2 separate regions of the Homo sapiens genome follow, and region 2 is linked to region 1. Evidence: fine-mapped expression QTL. A gene starts in region 1. The other region holds a variant in brackets. All regions are shown on one strand. Distances are between the middles of the regions.

Region 1 (2,901 bases):
CATAGACCTGGGTGCCAGAGGTCAGGCTTCTTCATTTGAAAACCAGGGAAGCAGTCTCTACCTCACAAGGTGGCTTGAGAACAGAGTGAGAGAATGTGTAAATCACCCCACCTGAAGTCCAGCACATGGGCAGAGCTCAGCATCCTTTGGATCCCTCAGGCCTGACAGGTGCCCCTGCGCTGGGGGGGTTGGTGGGGCTCTGCAAAGGCAGGCACTGCTCACCTCTGGGCTCAGAATTCTTGTCTAGAGGCTTCTGCAGCTGCCACCCTCGCCTGAGAAAATGCAGGTAGAGACATCTAGAGCCACCCCATGGTAACTGGGGGCTTTGAAAGAATGGAAGAGAGCCCCAAGGAACCAAGGTCCTGGGGATTGACAGGCATGAAAATATGTCCTCAACACCACCCACCCCTATTTCCAAGGCCCTCCTCCAAGCATGCCGCATGCTGTTCTCCAGAAAAGCCAGGGCCTCTGGTAGCTCCAGCTGCTGAGGGGCTGGAGCCTCGCCTTCCCCTCACCAGACCAGAGCCCGGAGGGTGGGGGTTGGGGGGCTCTTTTAACTCCTTGGTGGAGATGAGGAAATTTGGGCCCAGGGAAGTGCAGGTTCAGAGCTGCACCTGCTGTGCCTGGAACAAGGCCAATCCCCATAACCCATGCATCTGCGGAGGTGGCCCCCCAACTGCACATGAGGGGAACAGGGGCTGGGCTTTCTTTTTAATTTGTCTTGCTCTAGATGACAGAGGAACTTTTAGAAAACTGGTGGGATAAGGATGGACGGATGCCCCTCAGCAGTCTCTGGCCTCGTGCCCGGCTGCCAGCAGAGGAGGACACGAGGCCTCAGAGGCCCCCGACGCCCCTTCTCCAGGAAAGCACAGGGTGTGTGGCTTCTCCCCAGCCCCTTCTTTGTCCCAGTCCCCAGTCTGGAATCGCTCTCTGGGCTGGGCCAGGCAAGTGGGCCGCAGAGGCCTGGCTTAGCTTTGGGAACGGAAGCACGGGAAGGGGCGCGGAGAGGCAGGAAGCGGCCTGGGGAGGCTGGGGTGGCCGGGACTACGGACCCGACCGCATAGACGCGATCAGCCCCTCTTGGCGTTCCGGTGTAGCTGACCCCGCCCCGGGCTCTGGCCGGGCTGCGAAGCCGGGAACCAGCGACCCCCCGCCCAGCCCCTGCGGCCGCCCCGCCCCTCCCCGCCCCGGCCGCCCCGCCCCCGGCCCCGCCCCGCTCTTTCGCTTCCCGGGCCGCCGGCAGCCGCCGCCAGCCGCAGCCATGGGCCGGGCCCGGCCGGGCCAACGCGGGCCGCCCAGCCCCGGCCCCGCCGCGCAGCCTCCCGCGCCACCGCGCCGCCGCGCCCGTTCCCTGGCGCTGCTCGGAGCCCTGCTGGCCGCCGCCGCTGCCGCCGCCGTCCGGGTCTGCGCCCGCCACGCCGAGGCCCAGGCGGCCGCGCGGCAGGTCCGGGCCCGAGCTGGCTGGGGCGGGAGCGCGGGAGCGGGGACTGAAGGACCCAGCCTCGGCAGCAGGGGGGACATGGGCATGGACGAGTCGGGGGAGGCGGAGGGCGGAGGGGGACTGGACGGGAGGGAGCACGGGAAGGAGGGGACACGGGAGGCGGGTGGGGGGTGCCTGGGGCCGGGCTGATGGGGGGAAGGCGAACGGAGGCCAGTGTGGGGCTGGGACAGACTGGAGGGGTCTCTATCCAGAGGGGTGACCTGGACACAGTGAAGCTGGTTCCCGCAGAGTCTTAAAGGGTTACTGGGGAGCCCTGGGACAGTGAGGAGGGGACACAGGAGAGGACAGAAGGTGCAGGAGGAACAGGGCCAAGCAGCCAGGGCCAGGCGGAAGGCGGAGTGGGGACAAACTGGGAGGGGGCAGTCGGACCAGACAGTGGATGAGCAGGGACCAGGAGGGACTGGAGGCTCTGGGGCAGTTCAGAGGCAACATTTGCACAGATGGACCGGGAGGCACTGGGAGAGCTCAGGAAGATGGTGGGAGAAGGGGCTCCATGCGGAAGCAACTGCCTGTTGGGGACCAGGAGACCAGGCCGCCAAATGGTGCCCAGCCCAGTCTCTCCTCCCAAGCAGGAACTGGCGCTGAAGACCCTGGGGACAGATGGCCTTTTTCTCTTTTCCTCCTTGGACACTGACGGGGATATGTACATCAGCCCTGAGGAGTTCAAACCCATTGCTGAGAAGCTAACAGGTACCAGGAGAGACTGGCGGCTGGGGAGGAGGGCGCCTTGGCCAACGGTGTCTTCACTGAGCAGGAGCGGCCGTCTGGAGTGGAGGGAAGCTCGTGGGATCTCAGAGGCCCTGGACTCCTCCCAGCTCTGACACTTTGTAGCTGGTGGCTTGGGCGAGCTGCTCCAGCAACCCCTGAGCCTGTTTTTCTCAGACTTGTGAGCAATAATACCAGCTAACATTCTTTGGTCTGCGAGGTAGCTCACGCCTGTAATCCCAACACTTTGGGAGATGGAAGGATCGCTTGAGCCCAGGAGTTCAAGACCAGCCTGGTCAACATGGCAAAACCCCATCCCTACAAAAATACAAAAATTAGCCGGGTGTGGTGGTGCACACCTGTAGTCCCAGCTACTTGGGAGGCTGAGGTGGGAGGATCACTAGAGGCCATGAGGCAGAGGTTGCAGTGAGTTGACATCACACCACTGCACTCCAGCCTGGGCGACAGAGTGAGACCCTGTCTCAAAACAAACAAACAAAGCAAAACCAAAAAAACAAAAAAACCATTCCTTGGCCACCTCCTCCGTGCCAGGTATTTAAGTATTTCATGTGGGTTCTCTCTTTAAACCTCACAGTAGCCCTGGGAGATGGACACTGTCATGATCCCCATGTTTAATAGTCTGAGAGACTAAGGCACAGGCAGGCTCCCCAGTTTCCCAAGCTAGAAAGGTGCGG
Region 2 (2,901 bases), 69 kb before region 1:
GGAGTGCAATGATGTGATCTAGTTCTGTCACCCAGGCTGGAGTGCAATGGCATGATCTCGGCTCACTGCAACCTCTGCCTCCAGGGTTCAAGCAATTCTCCTGCCTCAGCCTCCCGAGTAGCTGGGACTACAGGCGCCCACCACCACGCCCAGCTAATTTTTATATTTTTAATAGAGACAGGGTGTCACCATGTTGGCCAGGATAGTCTCCATCTCTTGACCTCATGATCTGCCCACCTCGGTCTCCCAAAGTGTTGGGATTACAGGCATGAGCCCCCGTGCCTGGCCAGGCATCCCATTTTCTAGATGAGGAACCCAGGTCTGTGAGGAGTGTGTGTGAGGTCACACAGCTGCAGAGTGGCAAAGTCAAATTCCAAACCCAGGTCCCCGTGGCTCACAGCCAGGCCTTAACAGCTGCATAAACTTCCACCTATTCTTAGCACCTGTCACAAGGCTTCATAATCATTCATTTACTTGCTGTTTTGCTGGGAAATTGCTTACTGTCTTTCTGAGAAAGCAGCTGCAGCCTCCGTAAGGACAGAGGTCAGGCCTGATGCATCCTAGAATCTTCCTCACCACTGTCCCCACCAGCACCAAGGCCAAGGTCTGGGTGGTGATTTCCTCTCAGATAAATCCCTTACCCTTTGAGAACCAGAAAGAGAAATTCCTCAGATTATGGTCTGTCATAATCCCCTCCCTGCTTCCCTGTCAGTTTTTGACAGTTACCCTGAAACCGTTTTAAAATGATCTCAGAGGCAGAGACTGGCCTTCTCCACGCATGATTAAGCACGATGGCTTTTTAATGATTTGAGCTGTGCCTTCTGTGAATTGACAAAAATGGATTACCATATATTTCTGAAAGCCACACTGCCAAAATCAGATTTTTTTTTTTTTTTAGTTTTCTCAGCCATCCTCGAAAACCTTAGCTGAGAATGACAAATACTAGGGGCTTTAATTGTTCAGTCACATGAGGGTGGTGCCTCCTGAGTTCTGAGAACTGCTCTCGCCAGGAAAGCCTTGAAATGCTCCTGGGCTTCGATCTTTAGGAAATTGAACTGTGTGTTTTCTCTGAAGCGGAGAGCTGTCTCCTGGGCCGTGGCACGTTTGCTGCATTTGTGAATTGTTTGGGCACTGAGGTCTGAAACAGAGGCAGTTCTTGCCCCAGAAGCATGCTCAGGGCTGTCACGACTGGATGAGGCCTGGCTTGGCTGTGGGTGGGTGGACAGGGCAAGCGGGGAGGGGGTTCTCCCTGTGTGGGCACTTCCTCCTCCTTTTCACTCTCCTGCCAGACTCTGTTCATGGAGTCCTGCACCCTTCACCTGATTCAGGCCACCCACATCTGCGACAGGGTTATTGCTAGTACCTTGGACAGATGCAGACTCGCTGCTGGCTCAGAGAGGTTAAGTCATTTGGCTGTGGTCACAGGCTGGTAAGCCACAGAGCCAAGGCAC[A/G]TGGTTTGACCACAAGCCTGTGCTTCCCCCACAATCGCTGCTGCTTTAAAAAAATCAAATGAGGCCAGGCCTGGTGGCTCATGCCTGTAATCCCAGCACTTTGGGAGGTCGAGGTGGACAGACCGCCTGAGCCCAGGAGTTTGAGACCAGCCTGGGCAACATGGCGAAACCCCGTCTGTACAAAAAAATTAGCCAGGCGTGGTGGCATGCTCATGTAGTCCAGCTACTCAGGAGGCTGAGGTGGGAGGATCACGTGAGCCCAGGGAAGTCAAGGCTGCAGTGAGCTGTGATCGTGCCACTGCACTGCAGCTTGGACAACAGAGTGAGACCCTGACTCAAAAAATAACAATAATCATCATCATCGTCATCATCATCATCATCATCATCATCATCATCATCAAATGAGAGGCAACTCATAGGTATCCTCTGTAGTCCATTTACATTTAAGGAAAACAAACCTCATTGTGTATCCACTAGCATCAGTGGCTTCAGTCGTCTACATTATCTGCATTTCACAGAGGAGGATGTTGAGGCTCATGAGATAAGGTAGCTGACCAGAAGTCACACAGCTAGTAATAGGACAATTATGATTTTATTCTAAGTCTACCTGATTCCAAAGTTTCTGCCCTACTCTGTCCTTTGTAGGAATCTGTCTCAGGCTCCTTCCTCCCTCTCTAACACAGGTAAGTCTGGCAAGGGGAAGCCTGAGTGGCTTCTGTGAGGTTCTGGAAGGGGCCTGTGGACCAAAGAAAAGGGAGGCCCTTGGTCTATAGGAGTGTGGGCTGGTCTCCTCTTTACTGATGCTGGGAGTAAACCAGATGGATTCGTCATGGCCTGATGGAGAGAAGGCCACCTGTCTGGCCTGTGGTCATGTGTGCTCTCGGCTCCTGCTCTGTTCTATGTCAGGGTTAATTTACTATATATTTACTCCAAACCTACCATGCACCTGGCATCACACTAGGCTCTTTGGTGGCTCCAAAGATGCATCTGGCAGGATCTCTTCCTTCCAGGGCTACCATCTGTCAGAGAAAAAGACCAACTCAGACCCTCCTATGAGTGAGCCTGGGCCAGGGGATCAGTGGTGGGGCCCAGAATGGTGTAGGTAAGAAGAGCCATCCCTCGAGGGCATCTGGGGGGGCTCCTGCAGAGGGTGCCCAGGCTCCTAGGGAGAGGCGGCAGCTCTCTGCAAGGTAGTGCCTGCTGCAGGGGGGCCTTGCTCCAGCCCAGAGGTGGGAGATAGGGTCAGGCTAAGCCACAGGCCTTCAGGAGGTAGCCTGTGGTCTCAAAGCCAAGAGTACTTCCCTGGGACCTTCTTGGACCCTCCAAACCAGGCCCAGTCTCCCAAGTTGTGCAGGAATGGAATGGCACAGCAGTGAAGGGCAGAGCAACCAGGGAAGATGGCCAGAGTTGAGTCCTGGCTCCCTGTTCATCAGCCCTGGGAGGTTTAGAT

What was found. PIP is the estimated chance that this variant, and not a neighbour inherited with it, causes the effect.
Region 2: its variant is fine-mapped to the expression of SELENON in whole blood (TOPMed, PIP above 0.99).

What each region holds. Positions count from the first base shown.
Region 1 is chr1:25,798,970-25,801,870 of GRCh38, forward strand. SELENON (selenoprotein N) reads left to right here and starts at 1,224. Exons shown (of 12, transcript NM_206926.2): 1 at 1,224-1,444; 2 at 2,074-2,191. The coding sequence starts at 1,262. RefSeq lists an enhancer at 418-1,139 and a silencer at 949-1,088.
Region 2 is chr1:25,729,522-25,732,422 of GRCh38, forward strand. All of the region lies in intron 2 of MAN1C1 (mannosidase alpha class 1C member 1), which reads left to right. Among named protein-coding and RNA genes, the nearest start is that of SELENON, 69 kb to the right of the region's middle. The variant A/G (reference allele first, on the strand shown) is at 1,452.